2 separate regions of the Homo sapiens genome follow, and region 1 is linked to region 2. Evidence: fine-mapped expression QTL. A gene starts in region 2. The other region holds a variant in brackets. All regions are shown on one strand. Distances are between the middles of the regions. Region 1 holds the start of LOC105369335 (a long non-coding RNA gene). Region 2 holds the start of PLAAT4 (phospholipase A and acyltransferase 4).

Region 1 (16,601 bases), 48 kb after region 2:
GAAATCCACAAACCAAACCCCAAACTCTCTAGCAAAACAAGACCCCCTTGATGTATAAAGTCATCGCTGACAGGACAGTCTTTTTCAGTTATTGCTTTTGTCGCTTGTTTCTTGAGAACATGACTCCAATAAGGCTCATGGCTGCCAAGCCCATTCCTGCAACGCTTGCAGCGATGATGACATCTCTGACCTGCAACAAAGAAGAGGGTGGGTCACACTCTGTGTCAGGATCCAGAGTACAGGCTGCACATTCAGCAGAAACATTCAGCTCGGGATACCTCACATGCCCCTTGGCCTCCCTGGCCAAACTAAGGAGTCAACAAACATTGGTAGGGAAGAGGGGAGGAGAGGGCTGGACGGGAAAAGAATTCGTGGCTGGAGCCAGCTGGCCTGAAATTTACATGGAACCAAAGATGGAAAACTGGATTCACCGTGTGGGTATTCAAAGCATATAAATCCTCAGAGCGTGGCTGTGGAAAGGACAGGGAGCTGATGCCAGGATGGTCAAGATCTTGGCTGGCCAATGGGGAGCTCTAGAAGCAAAGGTGGAGTCAGGGAGGAATTGTTATTGAGTAGTCAGTAACCTGTGACCTCCATAAGAGCAAGGAACTCGGCTGTCTTGTTCATCACTGTATCCCCAGTGCCTGGTCCTGCCAGGCATGGAGGATGGAGGTACTCTTCACATGTTCTTAAATAAATGACTCAATTATAAATAGTAGTGATGTTATGCTTAGAATTATTAGGATATCTGACTTGTTTGTAGTAGGAAAAAAAGTGTTTCAAAAGTAAAAGTAAATGTCCAGGTAAAAATTGAATATATGTCCAATTTTACTGCCTCCTGAAACTCAACTAAAAGTAAACTAAGGCATTTGTTTAAGGCATAATTCCACAAGAATACAGAAAGCACTAAATCCTAAGGCAGCAAAGGAAAAAGATGAGGATAAACCCTAATTATATAAAAGAATACTCCAAAAGGATCACATATTAAACCCAGGTACCTCTGGAAGTGGGAAAGAATGAGAGAGAGCTTTAGCTGGTCCCTGAACCTCCTCCCTGACCCCCAAAAGAAGTCTGAACGTTTATTCTTTGCAGAGGGTACAATAGAAGGCTTAGGGGCCTAGAAACCTAGAAGCACATGTGAGAATGTGGGTATCATACCACAAACAAGGGATTGAGAGATTGTAAACATGCTAAATGTGAGACTCCCAGACCTCCTACTCCTCTGTTCCCAGAACTTTACGCTCCACACAAGAGTCCAGAAGACTTTTCTGGGGAATCTGGCCCAAATGCAAACAACAAAAGATACCAATACTGGGAATTCCCAAACAGCCCACCCAGATCATCCTGCAGTGCAACTCAGAGTCAGCAAACCACTGCCCCTACACCCACCCCCACTCACTCAGAGCTCCATCCAGTAGCAAACCCCCACTTTTTTTTTGACAGACTGAAAACTGTTCAGCACAGTATGAAAGAGGTGAGATGCTCAGCTGGGTGTGGTGGCTTACGCCTGTAATCCCAGCACTTTGGGAGGCCGAGGCAGGTGGATCACTTGAGGCCAGGAGTTCCAGACAAACCCAGCCAACATGCGAAACCCCATCTCTAAAAATCACAAAAATTAGCCAGGCCTGGTGACACGTGCCTATAGTCCCAGGTACTCAGGAGGCTGAGGCAGAAAAAAATCACTTGAACCCGGGAAGTGGAATTTGCAGTGAGCAAAGACTGCGCCATTGGGCTCCGTCCTTGGCAACACAGCAAGAATGAGGTGAGGTACTGTTTATATAAATCATAATTAAGTGATCTCAACAATACAATGATTTTACAGTATACATTAGAGGCCAGTATATATAGAGGGTAAGAGAATAGTAACAAGGAAAACATAGGTAGAAAGAATTAGCATCTCTTTCCTAACCTATGAAGTTGAATAATAAATCTTGGTCAAAATAATTTCCTGATAGTAAGACAGTGAGTATATTAAGTGTATAAAACTGAAAAACCAAAGTGATAAAATAAGAAAGGTGCCTTTACACAAGTACCACTTGACAGAAGTGTTATTTGTAATTTCTCTTGGAAAAAAAGAAATGTTTAAAATGCTTTAAGGAATCTAAAATAAAAAGAACAAATACATATTTAGCTTAACAAATTTAAGAGGAGAAATTGTATTTAGATGTTGTAATTTAAAAACCTAGGGCAACAACATTTAACAAACAGACATTGTTTTTAGGATATAATTTGTTAACTATTTTAGTTTACACTAAGTAATGTGAGTTGGTTTTCTTTGAATTCAACTGAACATGATGGTTGGCAAGTGCACTTTTTTTTTTTTTTTAATCTTTGAGATGGAGTTTGCTCTTGTTGCCCAGGCTAGAGTGCAATGGCGCAATCTTAGCTCACTGCAATCTCCACCTTCCAGTTTCAAGTGGTTCTCTTGCCTCAGCCTCCCGAGTAGCTGGGATTACAGGCACCCGCCACCACGCCCAGCTAATTTTTGTATTTTTAGTACAGATGGGGTTTCACCATATTGGCCAGGCTGCTCTCGAACTCCTGACCACTTGATCCACCAGCCTCGGCCTCCCAAAGTGCTAGGATTACAGGCGTGAGCCGCCGCACCCAGCCAGGCAAGTGTACTTTTAATCATGAGCATACAACCAACACACCAAACATCTGAAGAAGTCCTCTAAAATTGAAGACAGAGACAAAAAAAAAATAGCAATCTGGAGAAACAGAAACTATATCTAGAAAAGAAAACATCCTTTTAACAACTATAGCTTCTCAGTCTTTTGGCTAAGATCAAGTATAAAAATTACCACTGGAGAATAAGACAGCATATTGCATCCAAAAGGAAACGTCCTTTTAAAAACTATCATTAGATCGCTTCTCGGCCTCTTGGCTAAGATCGAGTGTAAAAATTATCACTGGAGAATAAGACAGCATATTGTATCCAATAAATAAGAACGTGGTACTATAAAAAATAATGCAATATTGAGAAAATAAAAACGGTTCATAGAAAATAAAAATGTGAAAAAACAACTCAACAGAAAAGTTGAAAGATAAAGCTAAGTTAAGGAAATCTCTCAAAAAGAATAGCAAAAAAATAAAGAAATAGAAACCAAAGGGAAAAAAATAAAATAAAAAACAGAACAATCCGGCTGGGTGCAGTGGCTCAAGTCTGTAATCCCAGCACTTTGGGAGGCCAAGGCAGGCAGATTGCTTGAGCTCAGGAGTTCGAGACCAGCCTGGCAACATGGTGAAACCCCATCTCTACTAAAAATACAAAAAATTAGCCAGGCATGGTGGTGCGCGCCTGTAATCCCAGCCACTTGGGAGACTGAGGCTGAAGAATTCCTTGAACCTGGAAGGCAGAGGTTGCAGTGAGCTGAGATGGTGCCACTGCACTCCAGCCTGGACAACAGAGCAAGACTCAGTCTCAAAAGAAAAAAAAAAAAGAAAAGAAATAGTGCTCTGAGTCCCATCTTAATGGATAAAAGTAGACCTACACAAAGGCACATTACTATGAAATTTTATAGCATTGGGTAAAGATATTACAACATTTAGAGCAGGGAGAAAAACAGGAAATGGAGAAAAGATCAGGAATCAGGATGGCTTCAGATTTCTCAAAGCAATTCTGGAAGCAAGAAGACAATGGAGCAGTACTGGTACCAAAACAGAGATATAGACCAATGGAACAGAACAGAGCCCTCAGAAATAATGCCACATATCTACAACTATCTGATCTTTGACAAACCTGACAAAAACAAGAAATGGGGAAAGGATTCCCTATTTAATAAATGGTGCTGGGAAAACTGGCTAGCCATATGTAGAAAGCTGAAACTGGATCCCTTCCTTACACCTTATACAAAAATTAATTCAAGATGGATTAAAGACTTACATGTTAGACCTAAAACCATAAAAACCCTAGAAGAAAACCTAGGCAATACCATTCAGGACATAGGCATGGGCAAGGACTTCATGTCTAAAACACCAAAAGCAATGGCAACGAAAGCCAAAATTGACAAATGGGATCTAATTAAACTAAAGAGCTTCTGCACAGCAAAAGAAACTACCGTCAGAGTGAACAGGCAACCTACAGAATGGGAGAAAATTTTTCCAATCTACTCATCTGACAAAGGGCTAATATCCAGAATCTACAATGAACTCAAACACATTTACAAGAAAAAAAACAAACAACCCCATCAAAAAGTGGGCGAAGGATATGAACAGACACTTCTCAAAGGAGACATTTATGCAGCCAAAAGACACATGAAAAAATGCTCATCATCACTGGCCATCAGAGAAATGCAAATCAAAACCACAATGAGATACCATCTCATACCAGTTAGAATGGCGATCATTAAAAAGTCAGGAAACAACAAGTGCTGGAGAGGATATGGAGAAATAGGAACACTTTTACACTGTTGGTGGGACTGTAAACCAGTTCAACCATTGTGGAAGTCAGTGTGGCGATTCCTCAGGGATCTAGAACTAGAAATAACACTTGACCCAGCCATCCCATTACTGGGTATATACCCAAAGGATTATAAAACATGCTGCTATAAAGACACATGCACACGTATGTTTATTGCAGCACTATTCACAATAGCAAAGACTTGGAACCAACCCAAATGTCCAATAATGATAGACTGGATTAAGAAAATGTGGCACATATACACCATGGAATACTATGCAGCCATAAAAAATGATGAATTCATGTCCTTTGTAGGGACATGGATGAAGCTGGAAACCATTATTTTCAGCAAACTATCACAAGGACAAAAACCAAACATCGCATGTTCTCACTCATAGGTGGGAATTGAACAATGAGAACACATGGACACAGGAAGGGGAACATCACACACCAGGGCCTGTTGTGGGGTGGGGGGAGGGGGGAGGGATAGCATTAGGTGATACACCTAATGTTAAATGATGAGTTAATGGGTGCAGCACACCAACATGGCACATGTATACATATGTAACAAACCTGCACGTTGTACACATGTACCCTAAAACTTAAAGTATAATAAAAAAAAAAAAAAAAAAGAAGAAGACAATGGAGCAATGCCTCCAAAACTCTGAAGTGAAACCATTTCCAACCTAGAATTCTATACCCAGACAAAGTATCAAATCAAGTGAGAGGGTAAAATGACAAATAATTCAGACACACAGGGTCTCAAAGAATTTACCTCCCATGCATCCTCTTACAGAAAGCTGCTGAAAATGGTTCCCCAAAAACAGGGGAGTAAATGGAGAAAGTAGAAGACATGAGATAGAGAAAATGGGCCTTCTACTACTAGAGAGACTGGAAGGGAATCTCCCCAGAATGACAGTAAAGGGAGATTCCAGGATAACAACTTAGTACCAGGTGTAAAGAATAACTGGTAGGCAGAATGATAAGCCCCAAAAGGTGTCCATGTCCTAATTTCAGGAATCTATAAATATATCATGCTACATGGCAAGTGAGAATTAAGCTTACAAATGGAGTTAAGGCTGCTAATCAATTTACCTTAAAATACAGAAATTATCGGCCAGGTGTGGTGGCTCACGCCTGTAATCCCAGCACTTTGGGAGGCCGAGGAGGGTGGATCACGAGGTCAGGAGTTCGAGACCAGCCTGGCCAACATGGTGAAACCCCATCTCTACTAAAAATACAAAAATTAGCCAGGCGTGGTGGCACATGCCTCTAATCCCAGCTACTTGGGAGGCTGAGGCAGGAGAATCACTTGAACCCAGGAGGCAAAGTTTGCAGTGAGCTGAGATCACGCCACTGCACTCCAGCCTGGGCAACAGAGCAAGACTGTCTCAAAAAAACAAAAACAAAAAAAAGAGGAAATTATCCTAGATTATTCAGATGGGCCCAATGTAATTACAAAGTTCCTTAAAAGGTAGAAGACAGACAGAAGAGTTAGTGTCACAATGATGCAATATAAGACTCAACCAGCCATTGCTCTAGCTTTGAAAATAGATGGGGACTATAAGCCAAGGAATGCCAGTATGTTGTGGAAAGTCGGGGACCCCAAACGGAGGACCAGCTGAAGCCACAGCAGAAGAACATAAATTGTTAAGATTTCATGGACATTTATCAGTTCCCAAAATTAATACTTTCATAACTTCTTACACCTGTCTTTACTGCAATCTCTGAACACAAATTGTGAAGATGTCATGGACATTTATCACTTCCCCAATTAATACTCTTATAATTTCTTATGCCTGTCTTTAATCTCTTAATCACGTTATCTTCGTAAGCTGAGAATGTACGTCACCTCAGGACCACTATTGTACAAACTGATTGTAAAATATGTGTGTTTGAACAATACGAAATCAGTGCACCCTGAAAAAGAACAGAATAACAGCGATTTTCAGGGAACAAGGAAAGATAACCATAAGGTCTGACTGCCTGCGGGGTCGGGCAGAATAGAGCCATATTTTTCTTCTTGCAGAAAGCCTATAGACAGATGTGTGAGTAGGAGAAATATCGCTGAATTCTTTTCCGAGCAAGGAACAACCCTGGGGAAGGAATGCATTCCTGGGGGTAGGTCTATAGACGGCCGCTCTGGGAGTGTCTGTCTGATGCAGTTGAGATAAGGACTGAAATATGCCCTGTCTCCTGCAGTACCCTCAGGCTTACTAGGATTGGGAAATTCCAGCCTGGTAAATTCTAGTCAGACTGGTTGTCTGCTCTCAAACCCTGTTTCCTGTTAAGATGTTTATCAAGACAATGCGTGCACAGCAGGACACAGACCCTCATCAGTAATTCTAATTTTGCTTTCACCTTGTGATCTTTATAGCCCTTTGAAGCATGTGATCCTTGTGACCTACTCCCTGTTTGTACGCCCTCTCCCCTTTTAAAATCCGTAATAAAAACTTGCTGATTTTGTGGCTGGGGGTTGTCATCACGGTCCTACCAATATGTGATGGCACCCCTGGAGGCCCAGCTGTAAAATTTCTCTCTTTGTACTCTTTCTCTTTATTTCTCAGCCTGGCCAACACTTACGGAAAATAGAAAAGAACCTATGTTGAAATATTAGGGACTGGTTCCCCCAATACCAGTAACCTCTAGAAGTTGGAAAAGGCAAGAAAATTGATTTTCTCCTACAGACACTAGAAAAGAATGTCAATGCTTTGATTTTAGCCCAGTGAAACTCATTTTAGACTTCTGGCCCACAGAACTGTTGATAATAAATTGTGGAGTCTTAAGCCACTAACTTTGTACTAATTTGTTACAGCAGCAATAGGAAAATAATGCACTTATCAATCCAGATTGGAGCATTGTGACTCCAGAGCCTAGCATGTTGAGGACTGCCATAACCACTATCCTCTCCCATTGTACTGTGTTTCTAACCTAAAGCAACTTCTGGAGGATGTGATCTACCTAAATAAGAGAAAGAGCAAAGAAACAGAAAACTAAGAGATCATAGAATCAGAGAATGCAATCCAAGAGAAGGAAAGGAAATCCAAAGGATGACAGCCAAGGGGAGTCCAGGATGACAGCCATGCAATTGGCCAAGGAGCAACCAGCACAGAGGGAAGAAGGGCCATCTCTGGGATAGACGTGTCCAAGCAAAATAAACAAGAACTTGTAGGTTACTTGACATGGTTTCCCTTGTGGAGAACTGTACTGAGAGCTAATTGGATCATGTGGGAAGAATTGACAACAGGTACAAAGAAAACTCGGCAATGAAAGGAAGTAATAATTATCATAAAGAAAAAAGAACTCCCTCCACTTCCCTCCCAAAACAGAAAGGAAACTATCACAATTCACCACGACACTCAGCTGTGAGTTTTCTCATCATGAGTTCTGGCTGCTGAGAAATCAGTTCTGGGCACCTTGTGTTAATTACACTGCTGTGTTTCCTGAGGTTAAACACAACTATGTGTTTCCTGACATTAAACACATTTATGGCCCAGATAAGCCTCAGTAGCATCAAGATACGTATATATTTTTAACCACTGAAGATCCCCAAACTCTTCTCAACATTGGTCACATAGAAGTTTTAACAGATAGCCAGGCACAGTAGCTCATGCTTATAATCCCAGCACTTTGGGAGGCCGAGGCAGGCGGATGATGAGGTCAGGAGTTCGAGACCAGCCTGACCAACATGGTGAAACCTCATCTCTACTAAACATACAAAAATTAGCCAGGCATGGTGGCACGCACCTGTAATCCCAGCTACTCAGAAGGCTGAGGCAGGAGAATCACTTGAACCGGGAGGCGGAGGTTGCAGTGAGCCGAGATCACACCTCTGCACTCCAGCCTGGGTGACAGAGTGAGACACCATCTCAAAAAAAAAAAGTAGTTTTAACAGACAGAATTCATGATGACCAAAGTTTGGATGGAGCTACCAACCTGAGGTTTGACTGCTGCTAAGTCTTTAAATGCTCCTCTAAAAGATAATTAGGCATGGTTTTGTGGCAGCCATGGTTCTGTTGGGTTAACTTGCTAGGGAACCTGCATAAAATCACTTGTATCCAGCATTTTCCTTGCTAAGCTCTGTGTCAGGGTAGGAGAAATAGTCTGCAGATAATGGAGGAGGAACAATATGTCCCTAGTTCTTTATAGAACCTCATGGTGT[G/A]AAAACAAAAGCTGATGCAACTGGTTCATACAAAAGATACTTTGTCAAGGAAAACAACAATAACCTCATTGTTTGTGGCCATGCTTTGTACATAGTCAAAGAGTATGATTAAACACAAGACTGTTGGAAGCTAGTTAGTCCTAATAGTGCAAACTTGATGGGAAAAACTCTCTCTCCAAGAGTCAGTGCTACCTTCAGATGCCATTGATCATTTTCATGTTGCAAGACTGAAAGGTCCAATCCAGCTGCTGTGTTGTTATTACAGGATTTCTGATCATGAAAATGGGCTACCTGGTGTGTGTCACAGGTCTTAAATCAGGATATCAGGATATTGTGAAAGAGAAAAGCTGTCTCTCATTAGAAATATTAAGAAGACTGTTTTTTTTTTAAGTGGGCAAACAAATTCTGCCAGACTACAGACATTTAGACATTTATACTACAAAGCTCTTCTGAGTTAAGCCTTGATTTAGGGAAATCTAAATCATTTCTGGAAAAAAGAAAGTGCTAATGTGCTGCCTTCACTTTCAACAATGTTATAGGTGGATTAAAGAAGAAGTGGAGATAGTAGTGTTATTCTGAAAGCAATCCAATTGAGACTGTTAGAGGTTACAATATAAGAATGGTTATGAAATAGTTGTATATTTTCCAACAGTGATCAAGTATACAAAAAATAATAAATCATTTAAAAAGAAATAAAATATTTGCATAAAAATTTGGTTTCATTTACAGTAATTTCAAAATAATACCCCACAATTTATCCAGATTTATGTAATATATGTATTGCCGCCAGACACATCTTCAATTTCTATTTACCTTAATATTTTCTCTCACTCAGACTAGACTTCATTGTGAGTATAGCTTCTGGTTGCTTTTTTTTTTTTTTTAAGTACTGTTCAGTATGAAAGTTTCTTTACAAAACCCTACTAAAATATATGTTTTTTGAAACCTAAATATTTTTAGGTAGGTGGAAAGTAGGAGAATCTTTTTTTTAGAATATTCTTAGGCATGTAAAGCACAAATTACGTTTTAGTTTAAATTCATTGTTTCCCTTCTCAGGAAATTTGATTAATCATAAACTTTTTTTTTTGTTTTTTTTTGTTTTTTTTTTTTTGAGACAGAGTCTTGCTCAGTCGCCCAGGCTGGAGTACAGTGGTGCAATCTCGGCTCACTGCAAGCTCCGCCTCCTGGGTTCACGCCATTCTCCTGCCTCAGCCTCCCAAGTAGCTGCGACTACAGGCCACCACGCCCAGCTAATTTTGTTTTGTATTTATAGTAGAGACGGGGTTTCACCAGGTTAGCCAGGATGGTCTTGATCTCCTGACCTCGTGATCCACCTGCCTTGGCCTCCCAAAGTGCTGGGATTACAGGCGTGAGCCACCGCACCTGGCCATAAATATTCTTTTGAAGGAAAATCTAGTCTGCTTCAAAGAGCTCAGCACAAATATAATGACTGGTCAGATTCTTTAAAACACACAAAAATATCCTCATGAGTTAAATGAAAAGGAGAGTCACTGCACTGACAGTGCTTACAAAGAAAAATACTGGTGGACATTTTCTGATATGTACTAAATCTATCATCTCTAGCAAGATGGGGCATGCATCGAAGTTCTTTTTTTTTTTTTTTGAGATGGAGTTTTGCTCTTGTTGCCCAGCCTGGAGTGCAATGGCGCAATCTTGGCTCACTGCAACCTCCACCTCCCGGGTTCAAGCAATTCTGCCTCAGCCTCCCGAGTAGCCGGGACTACCGGTGCACACCACCACGCCCAGCTAATTTTTGTATTTTTAGTAGAAACGGGGTTTCACCATGTTGGCCAGTATGGTCTCGATCTCTTGACCTCATGATCTGCCCGCCTCGGCCTCTCAAAGTGCTGGGATTACAGGCATGAGCCACTGCGCCCGGCCAGAAGTTCTATGTTAATTTGACTCACAGCATGTGTCAGTGATCATTACTCACCTAAGTCACTAGTTCTCAACTGGAGACAGTTTTTCCCTGTGGGGGGAATTGTCTACAGACGTTTTTGGTTCTTACATCTGGCGGTGGGATGCTACTGGTATCTAGTGTGTAGAGGCCAGGGATGCTGCTAAGCATCCTACAGTGCACAGGACAGGACTTGACAATGAAGAATTATCTGGCCCATAATGTCAATAGTGCTGAGGCTGAGAAACCCCTATCCTAGACCAAGAAATGAAAGAGGAAATCTTTAGAAGCAGTAGAGATGGCACCTCTGTTTTTGTTGTAGAATATTCTGGCTTCATTTTCTGTGATGGGATCAAGTAGAATTGTTCATGCTGTTTCACTGTTGTGTTATCATTGTTTTGCCTCTTTCAAGTGAATGGGTAGATGGGTAGGGCCAAAGTCCCAGGAAGAAAAGTGTGATGTGTTCAATTTGCATTGTTTCATTTTGCAAGTGTTAAATTATTGTTTACAAAAAGAATAATGGTATAAGACATTTCTTAGTTATTTTACTATCTCAAGATTTGGAATTTTATTTAATTACTCCAAATAGCATTTATGGCCAGGCGCAGTGGCTCACATCTATAATTCCAGCACTTTGGGAGACTGAGGCAGGAGGGTTGCTAGAGACCAAGAGTTTAAGACCAGCCCAGACAACAAAGTGAGACCCTGTCTCTACAAAAAATACAAAAATCAGCCAGGCATGGTGATGTGCACCCATAGTCTCAGCTACTTGGGTGTGTGTGTGTGTGTGTGTGCACGTGTATGTGTGTGTTTGAGAAGGAGTCTCGCTCTGTTGCCCAGGCTGGAGTACACTGGCGCAATCTTGGCTCACTGCAACCTCCACCTCCAGGGTTCAAGCGATTCTCCTGCCTCAGCCTCCTGAGTAGTTGGGACTGCAGGTGCCCGCCATCACACCCAGCTAATTTTTGTATTTTTAGTAGAGACGGGGTTTCACCATGTTGGCCAGGGTGGTCTCAAACTCCTCACCTTAGGTGATCCACCCACCCCAGCCTCCCAAAGTGCTGGGATTACAGGCGTGAGCCACCACGCCCGGCCAGCCCCGTTCTTTATTCTGTTAATAACTGCTGAAAGAATAACTAAATGAGATGATTAGGATATATTTTGTAAACCTACCAAATATTCTTAACGTAGAACTCTGAATTTCAAAAAGTATCTTATTGCTTCCCAAGGTTGTCTTGTACTCTGTATTTGGAGTTTATTGCTGCATAGGAGCATGAGTTTTACCAAGAGTAAGTAAACACCTTGATAGTGATGCAAGATCACCAATGATGAAACTCAATTTGTTATCATGTTTGTCTTTCTTATGCTAATATTGTCACTGCTAATTCAAAAAAAAAAAACTTCTATTATACCTAAATCTGTCAATAAATGTTCATTTTCAAATTTAAAAAGATACATAAATGGGCCAGGCACAGTGGCTCACGCCTGTAATCTTAGCACTTTGGGAGGCAGAAACAGGCAGATCACTTGCAGTCAGGAGTTCCAGACCAGCCTGGCCGATATGGGGAAACCACATCTCTAATAAAAATACAAAAATTACCCAGGTGTGGTGGCACATGCCTTTATTCCCAGCCACTCTGGAGGCTGAGGCAGAAGAATCACTTGAACCCAGGAGGCAGAGGTTACAGCGAGCCAACATCGCACCACTGTGCTCTAGCCTGGGTGACGAAACAAGACTCTGTCTTAATAAATAAAAAGATACATAAATAAAAAACAAGAGAGAGAAGATAAGAAAATCAGCAAAGCAGTCTAGGGATCCAATAGCCTAATAATAGGAGTGCCAGAGAATACAAACTGGAAAATTTCCAAGAACTAAAGAAAGTGAGTTTCCAAGTACCTGGCACAATACATGAAAATAGACCCGTGCAAGGTAATAAATTTCAGAACACTGAGGATGAAGAGAAGATTCTATACAGTTCTGAAAAGAAAAAATAGATCACATACAAACAATAAAAAATCAGAACAGCTTCAGACTTCTCTACCACAATAACAAAAGCTAGATGACAATAAACCAATGCCTTCAAAATTCTGAAAAAAAAAATATTATTTCTAACCTAGAATTCTATACCCAGCCAAATGATTAATCAAATGTGAGGATAAAATAAAGATATTTTCAGGCATGCAAGATCTTTTTTTGTTTGTTTTTTGTTTCTTGGGTCTTTTTTTTTTTTTTTCTGACCAAGTCTCACTCTGTCACCCAGGCTGGAGTACAGTGGCGTGATCTCGGCTCACTGCAACCTCTGCCTCCTGGGTCCAAGCAATTCTCGTGCCTCAGCCTCACCAGTAGCTGGGATTACAGGCGCATGTCACCATGCCTGCCTAGGGATCTTTTTAAAATGTACCATTTCTCAGTAAACTATTAGGGGAAGTAGTCTACCAAAACAAGGGCATAAACCAAAAAAGAGAAGGATGTGAACTACAGAGGATAAAAGCATTAATATAGCAGGGAACTGAAAGAAATTTCTAGGATGCTAGTAAAGAGAGATACCAAGATGACAGCAATGCCTCATCAAGTGTGACAAGAGACAAATGTGGCCGGGCACAGTGGCTTATGCCTGTAATCCTAGCACTTTGGGAGGCTGAGGCGTTAGGATCATTTGAGCTCAGGAGTTCAAGACCAGCCTTGGCAACAGAGTGAGACCTCATCTCTATTAAAATAAAAAACAATAAAATAAAAAAAATTTTTTTTGAGACTGGGTCTTGCTCTGTCACCTAGGCTGGAGTGCAGTGGTGTGATCTCGGCTCACTGCAACCTCTGCCTCCCGGATTCAAGTGATTCTCTTGCCTCAGCCTCCTGAGTAGCTGAGATTACAGATGCCCAGCACCATGCCCGGCTAATTTTTGTATTTTTAGTAGAGATGGGGTTTCACCATGTTGGCCAGGCTGGTCTCAAACTCCTGACCGCAAGTGGTCTGCCCGCCTTAGTCTCCCAAAGTGCTGGGATTACAGGTGCGAGCCACTGTGCCCGGCCTAAAATAAAATTGTTTTAAGAAAAGAAAAACAAGACACAAATGTTTTGAAGGCTGTTATCCCCAAGAGATAGATGTAGTAAGTGCCACCATCCCCTGGTCTCCTGCTTTCTTTCACTGCATCACCTTTTTAACCTGACAATATTCAGGCACTAATGAAGTTCTTCTCATGGCCCTGCCCACTGATTCCCCAGAAGAAAGCTCTTATCAACTCTCAGGGAAGTTGAAGCCAGACCATGACCAACAGACTGCAATCTTCACAAACATTGGCAATATTGCCCTTTCTTTACCTAGTTAGCTATGTACCACCTACTCAATTTCTAAGTTGATCACCTTTAACATTCATATATAAATAGTTGTTGAACATGAATAACCCAACTGATCGAAGAAAAAAATAAGAGGATACCCATTCAAAGGTAACTAATATCCCACTGTAGACAGGTATAGGAACCGCCTAACAAACATGAGGGTTGGTGTAGTAAGCACAGCTGGTTATCAGCAGTATGAAGAGAGTAAGAGTGATTCCTATAGGTGGTGTTAGTCAGTGTCTTCCCATTCAAGTGGCTGTGGCCCACAGAGGCCAGGGGACCAGGCAATGGATGAGCCAAGCAAAAAAAAAAAAAAAAAAAAAGAGGAGGATAATTTAAAAAAAAAAAATGAGGATAATCATGACTATTTTTACTACTACAATGTATTCAGTGTGCTAAGAATAAACATGCTCTTATTTAATTCACAAGGTAATCCTCCAAGATGAGTATTATCATTCGTACTTTACCAAAGTGTAGGGAGCTGGACTAACTCTCCTGAGGTCAGACAGCCGGCAAAAGGCAGAGACCAGGTCCAGCCCACGTTGGCCTGACTCCAGGAGCCCAGGCTCTTAACCACCACACTGACCAGGGAAGAAGAAATTGGATCTCAAAAAAAATAATAATAAAAGTGAACAGCCTGATGGATCTTAAGCTAATCATTCACTGAAAAAAATATGTATTCTTTTGCATCAACAGCCATGTAAGAACCTTCCCAATGTTCTTTTCACCTATGCAAAGAAAAAAAAAAAAAAAAAGATGGAAGTGGCTGAAAGGGAGGGGGAAGAAGTGCAAGGAAATGAGAAGAGAAAAAGAGATTGAAAGGAGAGGAAAGACAAAAATAAAATCAAGTAAATGAACAAAACTGCATCCCCTAGGGTCTCCCAGATTCACCCTTAGGGTTCAGCCAGGCTGAAGACAGTGCTGTTTATAAGCACGATCAGGCTATGCCACACAGACCTGGGCTTCAAATCCCAACTCTGCTAATTATCTGCACAGGAAAAGACAGGTACCAGGTCTGGAGACTCAACAAAGATTTTTTTGATGAAATGAATGGCTGTAGACAAGTTACTTAAGCTCAGTTTCCCAATCTGTAAGGTAGTGGGTCCTAAAACCTGCCTTTAGGGCTGGGGAGGGCCATCTCAGGGACAGGTGGCCAGGGAGGGCTTGGCAATGGGAATGATCATCATGTCTGTGACTCCTTTCCTTGGCCACCCACCCCCGCCCCCGACTACACTGATCTGCATTGCCAACTTGCCTCTCTCCCCACCCTTGTCCCCACCCTTGTCCCAACTGTGACATCCTCAAGGGCAGTAATTCTGTCTCTGCTATTTTGTCTTGTTCATGCCTCCATAGCCATGCCCAGCCTCCGTCAGCAGAGGGAATGGTCTGGTTCCTGGGGAAGGCGACACAGGCAGAGGACGCACCTGGTCACTGCGGGCGACTCCATAGCGCAGCTCATTCACAAAGTGCTCGCAGTTCTCACTGGTCAGCTTGTAGAGCACCTCCTGCCCCACCAGCTCCTCCGCCCGCTGGATGATTTTGCTGCAGGGCAGCGGCGAGTACTTGTCATCATGTTTGTTGTTGACCTGGTACTTGTCACTCCCGGCCACATCATACAGCAATTCCTTCTTCACGATGGCCTTGTCAGTCAGGGCGGACATGACACTGGCTGCACCAGCTCCTGCGACCTCACCTGCAGATCCACAAAGAGGAAACAGAGGGATTGGTCCTGGGAAGGGCCACGGAGGCTCAGAGCTGGCCCCCAGCCGGGCATCTGCCCTTGGCTCATCCACAAAGGATAAGCAACAAGTGGAAGGGTCAGACGCATGGCTGTGGGCCTTGGGGAAGGTGTGTGTGGTCTCTGGGCCCTGGTTTCCTTATCTAAAATGAAAGGGAGTGAAGTTCCATGATTTACTGTGATTTTTTTCTTACTCTAGAGAAGGTGGTCTTCTATACCTCATGACACTTAAGTGGCCCCCTTGGTTATGCAAATATGAGCCAAGAGCATACTCATCCACCTGGGAAGATAAGGTGGGAGACTTTTATGATGGCATCAGGGCTACACCTACTTGACCACACAAAGCTGCTTACTGCAGAAAACATGGCTGGGTTTTCCAGAGTCCCAGCCCTTCTGGAAACAGACCCACCAAAACGCACAGCTGTCCCCCTAGCTGTGATGGATGCTAAGGAGGCTTAGTGGGTACATGGGCACAGCCCAGGCCAAGGCCCAGGGCAAGGAAGGGCCACAAAGCTCCAGAAATGAAATGATCTTGAAGACAAGGAGTCCAGGTTCAACATGAAGACCAGGATGGTGGACAGGGAAAGCTGATGCCAACACAGACTGGGCATTCCTCCCAACTCAAACAACCTGTGTGGCGCAGGGAGAGGCAGGCACTGAGTATGATGATTGAAAAAGTGGGGATGGGCTGGGCACAGTGGCTCATACCTGTAATCCCAGCACTTTGGGAGGCCAAGGCAGGCAGATCGCTTAAGCCCAGGAGTTTCAGACAAGCCTGGGCAACATGGCAAAACTCCGTCTCTACAAAAAATACAAAAACTAGCCGTGTATGGTGGTGTGCACCTGTGATCCCAGCTACTCAGGAGGCTGAGGCAGGAGGATCACTTGAGCCCTGGAGGTTTAGGTTGCAGTCAGCTGAGATTGCGCCGCTGCACTCCGACCTGGACAACAGAGTGAGATCTTGCCTTAGGAAAAAAAGAAAAAGAAAAAGTAGGTATGCACTCAAGGGATGGGCCTACGCACCCAGGGAGCATGTCAAAGGAG
Region 2 (16,601 bases):
TAAAAAGAAAAAAAAATTAGCCAAGCATTGTGGCACACGCCTGTAATCCTAGCTACTCAGGAGGCTGAGGCAGGAGAATGGCTTGAACCCAGGAGACAGAGGTTGCAGTGAGCCGAGATCACACCATTGATGGGACAGAGTGAGACTGTCTCAAAAACAGAAAAAAAAATGTGCATCCAGTAATGTGATCATACCCTCCCTCTTTCCCCTCCAACCCACTTACCCTCTTTAAATTTAGGAGCTCTCAAAATCACCTTTGGAAAACAGTATGGACCACAGATTGTTCCTGTGGATTTTATGATCCTTTTCTCTGTCCATGTCCTTAACTTTGGCAAAAATAAACTTTTAAATTGAGTGAGACCTGTCTCAGATACTTTTTGGTTTACAGTCATGAGTCAATAATAAACAGAAGGAAAAACCCAAATGACCTATAAATGTATAAAATAATACGCAGGCCAGGTGCAGTGGCTCATGCCTGTAATCCCAGGCCAGGTGCAGTGGCTCATGCCTGTAATCTGGATACACAGGATGGAGCACCCAGAGAGGCCATGGAACCTCTGCACCCCTTCCTGCATGTCTTACCCCATGCATCTCTTTGTTTGTATCCTTTAAAATAGCCTTTGTAATAAACTGGTAAGTGAAGGGGTGGGTTGCCCCTCCACACCTGTGGGTGTTTCTCGTAAGGTGGAATGAGAGACTTAGGAAAGAAAAAGAAACAGAGACAAAGTATAGAGAAAGAAATAAGGGGGCCCGGGGAACCAGCGTTCAGCATATGGAGGATCCCGCCAGCCTCTGAGTTCCCTTAGTATTTATTGATCATTCCTGGGTGTTTCTCCGAGAGGGGGATGTGTCAGGGTCACAAGACAATTGTGGGGAGAGGGTCAGCAGACAAACACGTGAACAAACGTCTTTGCATCATAGACAAGGTAAAGGATTAAGTGCTGTGCTTTTAGATATGCATACACATAAACATCTCAATGCTTTACAAAGCAGTACTGCTGCCCGCATGTCCCACCTCCAGCCCTAAGGCGGTTTTTCCCTATCTCAGTAGATAGAACGTACAATCAGGTTTTATACCGAGACATTCCATTGCCCAGGGACGGGCAGGAAACAGATGCCTTCCTCTTGTCTCAACTGCAAGAGGCATGCCTTCCTCTTATACTAATCCTCCTCAGCACAGACCCTTTACGGGTGTCGGGCTGGGGGACGGTCAGGTCTTTCCCTTCCCACGAGGCCATATTTCAGACTATCACATGGGGAGAAACCTTGGACAATACCTGGCTTTCCTAGGCAGAGGTCCCTGCGGCCTTCCGCAGTTTTTGTGTCCCTGGGTACTTGAGATTAGGGAGTGGTGATGACTCTTAAGGAGCGTGCTGCCTTCAAGCATCTGTTTAACAAAGCACATCTTGCACCGCCCTTAATCCATTCAACTCTGAGTTGACACAGCACATGTTTCAGAGAGCACGGGGTTGGGGGTAAGGTTATAGATTAACAGAATCTCAAGGCAGAAGAATTTTTCTTAGTACAGAACAAAATGGAGTCTCCTATGTCTACTTCTTTCTACACAGACACAGTAACAATCTGATCTCTCTTGCTTTTCCCCACAGGTAAGTGTAAGTAAGTGTTTGCCTGAGTTCTGTGAGCTGCCCTAGCAAATTAACCAAACCCAATGAGGAGGTCCTGGGAACCCCAGTTTATACACAGCTAATCAGAAACACAAGTAAAACAACCTGAAGCTGGCAATTCACATCAGAAGTTGGGGAGAATCTTGTGCAACTGAGCCCTCAACCTGTGGGATCTGACATTATCTCCAATTAGTGTCAAAATTGAACAGAATGAGAGGACACACAGCTGATGTCTGCTGCAGAATTGATGAATGAGTAGTTGGTGGGGACAAATCACACATTTCTTGGTGAGCAGAGGTCACAGAAGACGTTTTGTTGATTATTGTTGAATGAGAGAATAGAAAAAGCACGTTGTTTTTTTTCATGCGCGTCCGTGTGAAGAGACCACCAAACAGGTTTTGTGTGAGCAATAAAGCTTTTAATCACCTGGGTGCAGGCGAGCTGAGTCCGAAAAGAGAGTCAGCAAAGGGAGATAGGGGTGGGGCCGTTTTATAAGATTTGGGTAGGTAAAGGAAAATTACAGTCAAAGGGAGTTTGTTCTCTGGCAGGCAGGAGTGGGGGTTGCAAGGTGCTCAGTTGGGGAGGTTTTTGAGCCAGGATGAGGCCAGGAAAACGACTTTCACAAGGTAATGTCATCACTTAAGGTAAGGACCGGCCATTTTCACTTCTTTTGTGGTGGAATGTCATCAGTTAAGGTGGGGCAGGGCATATTCACTTCTTTTGTGATTCTTCAGTTACTTCAGGCCATCTGGGCATATACGTGCAAGTCAGAGGGGATGCAATGCCTTGGCTTGGGCTCAGAGGCCTGACATTTTTTATTCCTACAGTCTCAGAGGAATATAGCTAAAAATGTGTTTACAGAGAAGTTTATAGTATTAGCTTATATTAGAAAAGAAGATATGTCTCAAATCAATGATCTAAGCTTTTACCTCAAGGAAGTAGGGGAGCCAGGTTTTCAGCAATTGGCCAGAAAAGAAAAAAAAAGAAGGGGGAGGAAGCATATGAAAACCAAAACAAGCAAAGAAAGAAAATGTAATAAAGATAGAAGAAGTAATAAATAAAGTAGAAAAAGAAAAAAATCAATCAGTCTAAAGCTGGTTCTTTGAGAAGATCAATAAAATTGATAAACCTCTAGCCCAGGGGGTCAGCAGAGACCCAAGTAATAAATATGTTAGGCCTCGCATGCCAGGAGGCCACACAATCTGCCACTGTAGCACAAAAGCAGCCATAGACAATACAAAAATAAATGAGAATAGCTGTATTCATGGGTCTTGTAAGACAGGCAGTGGGCCCAGTTTGGACTGGTTTGGATCTGTGTCCCATGCCAAATCTGTGTCCCATGTTTGGGCCCCACATTGTAGGGGTGGGTTGCCCCTACACACCTGTGGGTGTTTCTCATAAGGTGGGACGAGAGATTTGGAAAAGAAAAAGACACAGAGACAAAGTATAGAGAAAGAAATAAGGGGGCCCGGGGAACCAGCGTTTAGCATATGGAGGATCCCCCCAGCCTCTGAGTTCCCTTAGTATTTATTCATCATCTGTGGGTGTTTCTCAAAGAGGGGGATGTGTCAGGGTCACAAGACAATTGTGGGGAGAGGGTCAGCAGACAAACACGTGAACAAAGGTCTTTGCATCATAGACAATGTAAAGGATTAAGTGCTGTGCTTTTAGATATGCATACACATAAACATCTCAATGCTTTACAAAGCAGTATTGCTGCCCGCAGGTCCCACCTCCAGCCCTAAGGCGGTTTTTCCCTATCTCAGTAGATGGAGCATACAATCGGGTTTTATACCGAGACATTCCATTGCCCAGGGACGGGCAGGAGACAGATGCCTTCCTCTTGTCTCAACTGCAAGAGGCATTCCTTCCTCTTTTACTAATCCTCCTCAGCACAGACCCTTTACAGGTGTCGGGCTGGGGGACGGTCAGGTCTTTCCCTTCCCACGAGGCCATATTTCAGACTATCACATGGGGAGAAACCTTGGACAATACCTGGCTTTCCTAGGCAGAAGTCCCTGCGGCCTTCCGCAGTTTTTGTGTCCCTGGGTACTTGAGATTAGGGAGTGGTGATGACTCTTAAGGAGCGTGCTGCCTTCAAGCATCTGTTTAACAAAGCACATCTTGCACCGCCCTTAATCCATTCAACTCTGAGTTGACACAGCACATGTTTCAGAGAGCACGGGGTTGGGGGTAAGGTTATAGATTAACAGAATCTCAAGGCAGAAGAATTTTTCTTAGTACATAACAAAATGGAGTCTCCTATGTCTACTTCTTCCTACACAGACACAGTAACAATCTGATCTCTCTTGCTTTTCCCCACACCACATTGGAGCTTAGCCCATGAAAGAATTCAAGGATGAGCCTATGGTGAGAGAAGGCAACTTTTTTGAACCAGTACTGCTCCTTGCAGAGCAGGACTAACCCATAGGCAGCGGGCTGAGTTGGCAACATATGGGCTGTTGGCAGCTGTACTTATACCCACTTTTAATTATATGCTAATTAAGAGACGGGTTATTCAGAACTTTCTGGAAAAGGGTGGAGAGTTTCCAGAACCATCTAAGGTAACTTCCAGGCCATTACCATGGCCTATTGCAATGGTATTTGTAAACTGTCATGGCACTGGTGGGAGTGTCTTATGCTAATGAGCAGTGAGGGCAAATAGAGGTCACTTCCATCACCCTCTGCTAGTTTTGGCTGGCTTCTTCACTGCATACTGTTCTGACCACATCCTGCTCCAATCAACATGATCAACAGGGCTGCAACGAGAAAGCAAGTCCTGCCAGCCTCCTACCTCGCTACTATAGTAGGTTAGTGGAGGGGGAACATTTCCTTGTCCCAAATTCCAGCCAGAGTCTTTCTCAACATCTAAATACTGAATGCTGCCATGGCTTCAAATAAATTTGCAATGAAAAAACATATTTTTAAATGGCTTTCTATTTTGCTGCAGGAAAGGAAAACAAAATCTCGGGACCCAAACTCACTAAGCCAAAGGGAAAATTCAAGCTAGGAATTGGGTCACCCAAACCTGCCTCCCATTTTGTTCCTAAATAGATAGCTACAAAAATAAAAAGCTATATAACTCCCTAACAATTTGCTCACAAGGGAATTCTTTGTGAGCCCCAAGATCTTCACCCTAAAACAGTTCTGCTGAATGACACCCTGATGATGTAAATTGACAGCTTATCATCACAGGTATGGGAGAAAGGACAGAACTATAAGTCATCCCTCCATTCACCTGAGACAAATGCATATTTGACTGCTTATATAAAAATCCAGATTCACTAAGCATGAAATGAATGCATAATTAACTATTCCTCTACCCCCTCCTTTCACATGTAAAATGCAGATTCAGTGAATGCTGATCAAAGACTCAAAGGAATGCAACCACTTGCCTCTTTTATCTACCCTCCCTTTTTTTCCCTTTTCTCTTTCCCCTAATGCCCACACTTTTCCCTTTAAATAATGATGTCCCCAGACGCACTTTGGAAAAAGCACGAATCACAGATGTTTCCTATGGTTTTCTGTTCCTTTTTTCCTGGATGTGTCCTAAACCTTAGCTAAATAAATCTCTAAATTTTTGACTGAAAGCTGTCTCAAATATTTTTTGGGTTACAGCAGCTATTGCATCTAGATATACAATATAAATTAATGTAAAATATCATATGCTTGTAATTTCATACATGCTAGAGATATCATCCCAATCAGGGAAAGCTGCAAGAAGAAAGTGTTGGTGGTAAAGCACAACTTCCTAGATTTTTGCTGTCAGTGGGCTGGTTGGAATTTAAACTCTTTGAGTATTAAAAACAAATCAGTCTTCATAACTGATTATTTCTGCTATTATTGTTACCTATTGGAGCCTCTAGGAAAAAAAGAGGCAATAGAGAAAGAGAGGCAGTCTCCGTTGCTAATGTGCTCTTGTGGGATTAGATGTCTGATCCTTTGGAGCAGACCATCCATCCTGATGTGGGTCAGTTTGGACTCCAAGTCTGACAAAGCAGAACAGGCTTCAGAAAGCCTTGTTTGTCACTTGGAATACAGCCGTCACTCCTGCAGCATCTAAGCTTTGGTGCTGCTGAAGAAAGGCCACTGGCTGTTTTGGAGTCCTGCATTCACAGACCCCAGCTGCCTGGAACTGACTCTAAGCTAAAACCTGACACTATCTACCACAAGCTGTTTCAACCTCAGCACAAGCTGCAATGAACTGGAAGTGTAAGCAGACAGCAAGGGTTTCCAGGGATTATAGGAATTTAATCAACTCAGCAATCAGCCTTTTACAGCCTACCATCCTGTAGCCTGTTTCTTCCTAAACCTTGCATAGAATGCAGTCATGTGGTTGGTTAAAACCAGCTCCTAACAGATCCCAGCAACCTACAGATGAATCTGAGTGAACTTTCCTCATTACCATGCTAAAGTCTCCACCCCGGAGGAGCTACAGCTTCATTACCATAGCATGCAACCTATGTGTTGGCACGATGACTCACTGCATCTGTGCAACTGGGACCCCTCCTCTGCATGTGCCGATGCACCCTCTCCCCTCTCCATCACCCATAAAACCCTCCTGTCACTTTTCGTAGGGAAGACTGCTTTGGAGAATCCTCACAGTGTCCTCCTTACTTGTGCCAAGTAATAAAACTGCTATTGATCCACACCTGTGTTCTCATGAAAAGTTGTTTGTTACTAAACGAATGATCCCCGTTTTTTTTCGAGTAACAGAAGTGGGCATGTATGGTTTCTTCTGATAGCAACCAAATACATGTCATTTGTCCACATCAATCAGTCCTGCAATTCTCCAACACTGACCGCATGTTCAACAATCCGACTCAATTCCGACGCTAACTATCCAGAGTTAGGCTCAGCCTCCACAGGTAAAGTCTCCAGGCTCAGCAACAAATGGAGTTCCCTGGCTACTCACATTTCTACCTGGCTGACTACAAATGGTGGAGACCCCCTAAATCCCCTTTAAATTTGATAATTCCCTAGAACAACTTCCAAAATTTAGAAAACTGCTTTACTTATGATTGTCAGTTTATTATAAAGGATACAACTCAGCAACAGCTACATGGAAGAAACTAAGAAGAAACTAATATGGGGGGCAGTGATTGTGCACAGCTTCCATTGTTAAAGAAAAAATTATCTAATGATACAAGCTTGATATCCACTGCACTGGGATTTTGCAGCAAGAGAGAGAGATGGGGCTCAAACTTGAACACAGCACGGGCAAGTGGGAATTCATAGGCAAGGAGAAGCATACAGGTCAGTGGATGCAAAATTACAAAGAGGAAACCTCAGGGGCAAGAGAGATTCTGGTTAAACCACACTAACAGGATTCTTGCTGAAGACAGGCCGGGGTGATCAGACATCACCTGGAGGACAGTGAGAAGGATGAACCCGGTCAGATATTGAGGGTGGGAAGTTCCTGCTAAACTGACTTGGCAGGGTCCTTTGCTAAAATTAGATTTTACAAGGAAGTACAGATGTGCCTAGGAAGAGGTTTGGGAACCTGACTAAAATGTGGTCACACAGAGAATCTTTGCCACCATGCCCTCTCCAGCCAGGCCAGTCTCCCACCACATCTGTGTTCACCTGCCCCAAAGCTCTCCCAACCCCGTCATGTAGGGGTTTCTACGGAGGCTGCATAATGTAGACATTACTGATTAAATAATGGTGATCAGTCCCCAACCTGAAGTTATCCAGCTCTCCCTCCTCAACCAAGAGCCACCTCATTAGCATAAACTCAGATTTGTTTGACAGAGACTCCTTCTGAATAACATGACATCCTATCACTCAGGAAATTCCAAGGGTCTTAGGACCTCTGTGTCTGGAACTGGGGTCAAAGACCAAAAATATATTTTTTTATCATGCCACATAAGGCATAAATAAACTTTTATTATGCTACAAGGCATAAATTTATTTAAAAATAAAAATTTTTATTATGCCACAAGGCAAAAACCCAGACTCTGGGATTGTTGAATGCAGACTCTTGTGGGGGCCCCCTTAAAGAGTTTTGTGATCCTAAATATTTCAAAATGGAGTCACTTACGACAAGTGACTCAGCCCACAGTGAAACTGCTGAACCCTCAAAATGATAAACATAGGTATAAAGGACTGAGGTAATAAGATAACATCTGCTGTGGCCAGACACCCCCAAGACCTGATGAGAAACTGAAACCAAAAGGTGGCTGAGATAATGACCATGGACACTCCTGCAGAGGGCCATAAAAACAGCAAAGAAACTGACCACGGCAAGACACCTGTAGAAGCTCTGCCCGAGAAAGCTCTGAGGCTTCCTCATGATATCCACAGCGGTCCCTGGAAGCTCTGCCCAAACACAGCAACATCGTTCAACAGTGTTTTGAGTGAAACCCAGAGGCATGCTAACCTAAACAACAGAAATGGGGGTTTTTTGTTTTGTTTTGCTTTGAGACATGGTTTCACTCCAGTTGCCCAGGCTAGACTGCAGTGGAGCAATCTCAGCTGACTGCAGCCTGACTTCTGGGTTCAGGCGATCCTCCCATCTCCGCCTCCCAAGTAGCTGAGAGTACAGGCACATGCCACCATGCCCGGCTAATTTTTTTTTCTGTATTTTTAGCAGAGACGGGGTCTCGCCATGTTGGCCAGGCTGGTCTTGAACTCGTGGGCTCAAGTGATCCACCTGTCTAGGCCTCTGGTTGGGTGTGAAAATATGGCCCAGTTCTGGCCAATGGAGAAGGGAACAGGTCATCTGGGGAACTGTGGGAAAGACTTAACTCCCTGAAAAAAAGACAAATGAGAATTATCTTTCCCTCCATCTTTTGGGCATAGCCAGGTAAAAATGGGCCACTCAAGGCTGCTACAGCCATGGGAGTCCCTGCAGGGCAACAGTGCAGACCCAGGACCAGTGCAATGGAGACAGCCTGCTGAGTCCTTGGTGACCTTGGTGAGCCACTAAACCCAACCTGAGTCACCCTCTTCCTGCCTTTCTGTTACCGAGACAATGGGTGTCCAGGCTGTTGAAGCCCTTTTGAGTTTAGTTCTGCTTCTTGCACCCAAATGCATTTTAATGGGGCCATGAGCTCCCAGGCTCCACATGGTCTAAGGTACCCCTCACCTCCAGGGCATCCCCATGGAATGAAACACCCCCTCTGGCCTTCTCCCAAGACTTCTGGCCCAATATTTTCTGGGTGTCTTTACAAGACAATGTCCTATGGGGTGCACTGGGGATTGACATCTCCCTGCCTCCGAATGCCTCCCCTTCCTGGAGTAGGAAGAGCTGCCCAGGGTTCTTTTTAGAAGAGACCTTTATTTTGGCCAGGTGCGGTGGCTCACACCTGTAATCCCAGCATTTTGGGAGACCGACGGGGAGGCAGATCACAAGGTCAAGAGATCGAGACCATCCTGGCCAACATGGTGAAACCCCGTCTCTACTAAATATGGAAAAATGAGCCAGGCATGGCAGCAGGTGCCTGTAATCCCAGCTACCTGGGAGGCTGAGGCAGGAGAATCACTTGAACCCGGGAGGCAGAGGTTGCAATGAGCCGAGATCGCACCATTGCACTCCAGTCTGGGTGACAAGAGCGAAACTCTGTCTCAAAAAAACAAACAAACAAACAAACAAACAAACAAAAAAGAAAAAAAAAGAAAAGACCTTTATTTCTCAAGCAAGGGCAGAAATTCAGGGCTCCCCTTCGACTCTGGCTGCTCCCAAGGTGGCTTTAAAGCACCAATGAGTCCATGGCTTGTGTAAGAAATGATTAGTCCTTCCATCTAGAGAAATAGCTCCTTTTTAAACAGTTGTCTCTTTTAAACAGTGTTTAGTATTTAAGTGAGGTTGAAACAGTGTCAAAAGGAAAGTGAAAGTGAAATTCTCTCCTTCAGCATAAAAGCTGATCCACAAACAAGAGGAGCACCAGACCTCCTCTTGGCTTCGAGATGGCTTCGGTAAGTTTCCCAGGGCTTTGCATTACTGACTCTACAGCAGTTGGGCAGCTCCCCCTAGGAAAGGCCTCAGTCCAGGCTCCTGGCCTTGGGCACACAGCTCCAGAGCTCGTCTTTAGAAGGCTGTCATGGAAAACTGTATTTGTCTTTTAAAAGTGCATCTGCCCAGCTGGACAGGGAGTCCTCTGGGCAGAGTCCACCTCCTCTGCGTAACTGGCACAGTGCGGGGAGCCCGGGACTCCCATGTAGTAGAGAGCTGTGGGGTGCCGGGTGTCAAATCTACCTCAGCCTGAGGAGAAGCCAGAGTGTGGGCAGGTGGGGGACTCTGGGTTGTGGGAAGCAAGCAAATCCCAACATCGTCTGCTTCTGCTGTGACTGGGGCTCAGTCCCTTCTCGGCCCCAAACGATGCTTTCTCTCTCCTCGTTCCTCTGTGGCATCATCCAGCCTTCTAAGGTGCATTCTAATCTCAGCAGCTTTCTGAAAACTGAAATTTCTCCTCCTATCAGCCCAGATGTACCGATTGGCAGAAGCTCTAGGGAGAGCAGGCTGAGCTCGGTGGTGTGTGACTAAAAAGGAACAGCGGGGCTCAGGCTATTACTAGAAACAAAACCATTCCGGGAAGGAGTCCTGCAAATTCTGGAGGGCAGCCCACTCCAACAGCACCACCTGATCCTGGGGAAGGGCTTTACTGCTGCCAAAACAAATCAGGGCTTTTAACAGGGAGCCCAGGCCAAAGCTCATATCTCACTGGCCACCAGCTGAGGTTGCCAGTACCTTGACTGTGGTTTTAGACATTCAGCATTGCAGTTAAAAGCCCCTCTCTCTCCCCACATGGAAACCATCTCCTGTGGTGCCCTGACATACAGAGGAGGAGCTGGGAGGGAGTCCTGGCCCTGCTCCTTTCTCCTCCCTCTTCCTTGTCTATTTCCTTGCCCCATTCTACGCCAGGCCCTTCACTGGGTCCTGGAGGTGCAGGGAGGGAGGAGCACACAGGATCCTGCCTGCCTGGAGCTCACAGCCCAGAGGGGCACAGGGAGGCACAGGGAATTGCAGCTCAACTTGACCCCTGCAGAGAGCAGCAGAGGCCCCCGGGGACCCAGGTCCTAGGAGTGGGGTGGCGGGTCAGCTGAGCCAGGCTGGGGCCATCAGGGCAGCTTCTCAGGTGAGGGGGTTTGAGGGAGGGGAAGAGGAAGAGTGGCTGCAGGGAAGTGATGGAGGCAGGGAGAACCAGATGTGCAGAGCAGCAGAGACCAGAGCCAGGGCAGTAGTGAGGGGCTGGGATGTCACTCAGTGGGCCTGTGGGTGCAGAGCCCAGGGAGGGAGAGGAGGGTGAGGAAGGGCCAGTCAGGAAGGGCCTGGGAGCTGCCCACAGGGTGTGTCCTGGGCCCTGAGGTCAGAGGACGGTCATGGCCAGATGTGCCCTTGGGAAGGCCACCATGGGTTCTGAGGAGTTGGATATGGAGTGGCAGGGACAGGAGGCAGGGGCTGGTCAGGGGGTTGTGGGGGTCACAGAGGCAGGCATGGGGCTGCCTGAACCAAGTCAGTGGATGGGATATTGACAAGCACACCAACAAGGAGAAGCTTCCGGAGTCCACATTGATTGGTTTTAGTGACTGGATATTGGCATGAGGAAGAGGGCAAAGGAGAGCAGACCCCAGGTCTATGATGGGACATCCTGGGATGAGGGAGGAGGAGGCTGTCACCCACTGAGGACAGGGACAGAGAGGGTGAAAATGGAAAAATCCTCCAGTCATGAGGCTGCTATGCCCTGGGGCAGGACATGGAGAAGTGGGAAGGAGGTGAGGAAGGGGAAGAAGGTGGCCAAGACAGGAACCAGGGTGAGGGGTGTGCAGGGAAGAACCAGCTCGGCCTCCTTCCAGCTGAGTGTTCTCAGGAAAGCCCTGCCACCTCTCTGATCCTCAGTTTCCCCATCTGTGCAATGGGATGATCATGCCTTCCCCTGGGGCTGTGGAGATGGTGCAGTTATTGTAGGACAAGTTCCCACAGAGGCCTGTTCTGTGAGTGCAGAGCCCCCTCAGTGCTGGGAGCTGGGGGGCCCCACAAGACCCCACTCAGGTCCCAGCAGGATGCTGTGAGCTCCTGTCTCCCAGGGTGTCATCTCCAAGAGATAGGTGTCCTGAGGCTGGATGGGGCAAGGTCTGAGGAGGAGGTGGCTCTTGGGGCCATGGAGAGGCACAGGGCAGGAGTGATGAGGAACTGAGGGTCAGTCTGCAGAGGGCGGAGAGCTCAAGACTCACCTTCCCAGCCTTGCTCCTGGCCTCAGTGAAGGTGCTGGTTCATGCAGGCTCTTGAGTCGGCCTACTGAGGAGCATGTGTACAATGCACACATGCACACACATCTGCATCCTCAGCATGCACACACACAGCACACACATGTCACACATGCGCCCAGACGGTCCTTCTGTCTCCCATCCCACAAGATCATTCTCCAGGCTTCCAGCCCCCAGTGCCCCCACTGAGAAGAGCCTCTGAAAGTGACAGCAGGGCTGAGGATCTCATGGGGCTAGCAGCTGATGAACATCAGCAAGGCGTCTCCAGGATGAGCTGCAGCTCCCCCAGCCAGGGTCTCTGCTGTTGCCTAGAAGGCCGGGTACTCCATCTCTGGCTTTTCTGTTGCAGCCACACCAAGAGCCCAAACCTGGAGACCTGATTGAGATTTTCCGCCTTGGCTATGAGCACTGGGCCCTGTATATAGGAGATGGCTACGTGATCCATCTGGCTCCTCCAAGTAAGGACTGATGAATATATAATTTTCAAAATATTTGTTAAAAGGATAATGAGAGGGCCGGGCACGGTGGCTCATGCCTGTAATCCCAGCACTTTGAGAGGCCGAGGTGGGCAGATTACCTGAGGTCAGGAGTTCAAGACCAGACTGACCAACATGGAGAAACCCCATCTCTACTAAAAATACAAAATTAGCCAGGTGTGGTGGCACACACCTGTAATCCCAGCTACTCAGGAGGCTGAGGCAGGAGAATCACTTGATCCCCGGAGGCAGAGGTTGCAGTGAGCCGAGATCGTGCCATTGCACTCTAGCCTGGGCAACAAGAGCAAAACTTGATCTCAAAAAATAAAAAAATAAGTCAATGAGAGCCACTGAAAGACAGTTAAGCAAGGGAAACTTGAGTTAGGAGACACATTCTTCTTAGAGGATGCTTGATGAGATTGCACACACATATGTCCCATGAAGTAGACACAGTGCATTCCATAGGTCCTGGCAGAACGGAAGAAGAGACCGTTGCCTCCCGCAGCGAAGCTGGGCTGCTTCAGCATTGGGATCTCTCCAGCTCAAAGTCAGTTACCTTGGCATGCAGAATCTCATACGACTTAAACCAGCCAGGTTTCTTAGGTCTTAAAGAAGAAAGTTTCTCAAAAGGAACAATGTTTCTCCGTGCCAGATCCTTTGCCTCATATGTTTTCACACAACAAGGTGTCTTGATATTATATACTTAAGATTCCTTACTGGGAGCAATTCTCACAGGTTTATACATTTTTTTAAAATTCTCATACAAATACACAGTAAGCAATACCAATGTTTTATTTAACTCATTAATAACAGAAGCAGAAATATGACATACCCAGTTAAAAGCAGAATGAAGGAAACGTATGTATGGATAGCCAATGAAAGGGGAAAAAACGAACACAGAGGCCAGGCACAGTGGCTCACTCCTATAATCCCAGCACTTTGGGAGGCCAAGGCGGACGGATCACTTGAGGTCAGGAGTTCAAGACGAGCCTGGCCAACATGGTGAAACCCCGTCTCTATTAAAAATACAAAAATTAGCTGGGGGTGGTGGCAGGCATCTGTAATCCCAGCTACTCAGGAGGCTGAGGCAGGAGAATTGCTTGAACCTGGGAGACGGAGGTTGCAGTGAGCCGAGATCCTGAGACAGTGCCACTGCACTCCAGCCTAGGAGACAGAGGAAGACATTGTCTCAAAAAACAACAACAAAAATGCAGAAATGAGACAATGAGACTGCCAAATTAGGTAGGTGCAGGCAAGTTCATATCCTCTAGGGCAGTGCCACTACATAACTTCTCATGTTCTCTTTTCACCAAGCATTTACATTGTCACTGGACAAAAACCATTCCCATCACTATCAGGGCAAGACATTTGCATCTTATCAGTTTTCTCCAAGCCATCATCTCCCAGGCAGGATTGTAAAAATGTCTGAATTGATGGAAAATAGTAAATCAAGCCCACTTAATCCAGATGATCCTCAGGGACCTTGTAAGACAAAGCATGGCAATGAAGACACATGGTCCTTTTTGTGCCTAACTTGCAGTGTGTAAAGAGGCTTTTTTTTTTTTTTTAAGACAGAGTCTTGCTCTGTCACCGGGATGGAGTACAGTGGTGCAATCTCAGCTCACTGCAACCTCCGCCTCCCAGTTTCAAGCGATTCCCCTGCATCAGCCTCCCGAATAGCTGAGGCTACAGGCGCATGCCACCACAGCCAGCTAGTTTTTTGTATTTTAGTAGACATGGGGTTTCACCATGTTGGCCAGGATAGTCTCGATCTCCTGACCTCGTGATCCACCAGCCTCGGCCTCCCAAAGTGCTGGGATTACAGGCATGAGCCACCGCGCTCAGCCGTAAAGAGGCTTTTTAAAGACAATTTTTCTCTCTTTCCTTTTTTTTTTTTTTTTTCCTCTGAGACAGTGTCTTACTCTGCCATCCAGGCTGGTGTACAGTGATGTGATTACAGCTCACTGCAGTCTTTTTTTTTTTTTTGCATAAACATTCTGATTTAATAAATGGTATGAATATATATTTTGCATACTTTACAATAAAGAAAATTTTGAAAGAAAATTGATCTAAAACTGTTTCCCTCCAATTTCCATGGTAAAGTCAACTGCATACAGTTCTTTCCATGTATAAGTTTTACATTTGTATTTTCTACAATTAAATAAATCTAAATGTTAAATTTTAGCACATATATCCAATTATGTACAAAATTACAATGTCAATTTATAAGTCAAGCTTACTTAAAAATCATAAATTACAAAAAACACATTATGAATAATTTTGTTCTGGAAGTATCATACCAACTCATACGATCTAGGTGAACCCAAAAGTAAAAAACAATGATTATAAATTACAGTAGTGTCTGTAAAACCCTGTTATAAAGGAGGTATTCTTTTAAAATATGTACCTTATATATAAAAGCTCCTGACTCCTTTTAAGGACCAAAATTATTTTCAGTTTAACCATTTTCATTAAAATGCTTATTTAAAAGTATCGCCTTATAAAACTGAGTATATAAAATACAATGCAGCCCTTGATAACTAAGAATCTTTATAAATGCTAATTATTTAGTGACCTGTTTATCAAACTATTTCTGTGGATGGGGTGATTTTTTTTCTTCCTCTAAATTAAGTGGCCCTAGACTAATATATTTATATAGTTATTCTGTTTTCTTCCGTACTGTCATTTCACATCTCTATCAGTGAGTTCCTCAGGATTTGCCTTTATTTTACAACTATGAAAGTCTTCAATCCAATTCCCTGCTTCCACACATAGGACACAGAAAGCCTAAACTTTCCTTTTTTCTGGGCTCCAATGGGAAGCAGCATTTACAACGTGTCTGGCTTGGTAGGAGGAAGATTGTCAATTGAGGTATCATGTGTGTTCACCTGCCTATCTTGCCCTATTTCTTTGGTTGCTGTAAATTTCCTGCTTCTCAAATATCTGGATTTTTGGCTACCTATTTGGCTTCCGTCTTTGGTGTTTATATCTGTCTGGTTTTAGCAGGTCTCTCTGATTCCTGACTCACAGCTCCTCTCCTTCACTAATATTCAAGTGTGCTGCTTGCCTAACTCCTCATTCCTTCTCCTTGAATTTCACTTTACAATTGCACTAGGTTCTATCATCGTTGGCCACAGATTACCACAAAACATAATTTCTTAAATTCTGCACATTTCTAATGCTTCTAATCTTGGTTTCCTACAAGATCTAACACTAAGCTTGTGTTATCCTGATTACAGTGTATGTAAAACAATGCTTGTGGAAAACTAACCTAGGAGAAAGCTTATAGGGGAAACCTGATAATGAATTTTATTAAATTAATAACCCTTATAAAAATTTCAAATGTAATACTACCTGGATTTGAACTTCAATACTTTTCTTAAGTAAAATTCTTAACCACGGTAGAAGTTATGTTTGTTGATGTTCACTCATCTATACCCTCCATATTCTCAGCAAAGTTGGCATAAATCTGACCTGAATAAATAGGGTTATAACATTATCAGGCTTGTAAAATACTTTATCAAATCAATGCATCAGTTAAAGCAGGGGTCCCCAACCCTGGGCTGTGTGTGGCCTGTTAGGAATCGGGCCACACAATAGGTGAGCTGAGAGGCAGGTGAGTGAGCATTCTGCCTGAGCTCCGCCTCTTGTCAGATCAGTAGTAGCATTAGATTCTCATAGGAGTGCAAACCCCATTGGGAACTGCACATGCAAGGGATCAGGCTCACTGCAGTCTTGACCTCCCCGAGTTCAGGCCAGGTGATCCTCCCACATCAGCCTTCTGAATAGCTGAGACGAGATGATAGGCGTGTGCCACCACGCGCAGCTAATTTTTGTATTTTTTGTAGAGACAGGTCTCGCCATGTTGTCCAGGCTGGTCTCGAACTCCTGAGCTCAAGTGGTCCACCTGTTTAGGCCTCCCAAAGTGCTGGGATTACAGGCATGAGCCACTGCGCCCAGCCAACAGGATTTTCTTAAGAGGGTTCTAAATGCAAACATCAGCCTTGAGATTAGAAACGGGGCAAAAGAGGTAACACACCTAATTATTGTGTGCATTAGGTACTATCCATTTTAATAAAAATAAGATAACACCTGGAGTCACTATATAATGGAATTGGGGCTCCATTGGTTGACAGCTCTTCTGTGTTCCTCTCTATGTGCCTAGAACTGTGCCAGATTGTAGGACAGAAGACACTTTACAAAGGATTCCCTCAGGGTCAGCCCAGTGCAGTGGAAGGAGCCTGCCCTTTGGGGCTTAAGAGAAGCAGTTTCACATCCTGATTCTAGGACT

Evidence for each region. PIP is the estimated chance that this variant, and not a neighbour inherited with it, causes the effect.
Region 1: its variant is fine-mapped to the expression of PLAAT4 in whole blood (TOPMed, PIP 0.98).

Annotation. Positions count from the first base shown.
Region 1 is chr11:63,574,857-63,591,457 of GRCh38, forward strand. It overlaps PLAAT3 (phospholipase A and acyltransferase 3), which reads right to left. Exons shown (of 5, transcript NM_001128203.2): 4 at 15,244-15,512; 5 at 1-190. The coding sequence ends at 89. It overlaps LOC105369335 (a long non-coding RNA gene), which reads left to right and starts at 362. Exons shown (of 3, transcript XR_950179.3): 1 at 362-434; 2 at 11,712-11,771; 3 at 15,173-15,234. The variant G/A (reference allele first, on the strand shown) is at 8,565.
Region 2 is chr11:63,527,333-63,543,933 of GRCh38, forward strand. PLAAT4 (phospholipase A and acyltransferase 4) reads left to right here and starts at 9,476. Exons shown (of 4, transcript NM_004585.5): 1 at 9,476-9,545; 2 at 12,184-12,292. The coding sequence starts at 9,537. RefSeq lists enhancers at 611-1,272, 1,935-2,594, 4,581-5,240, 7,628-7,717, 9,375-9,424 and 1 more.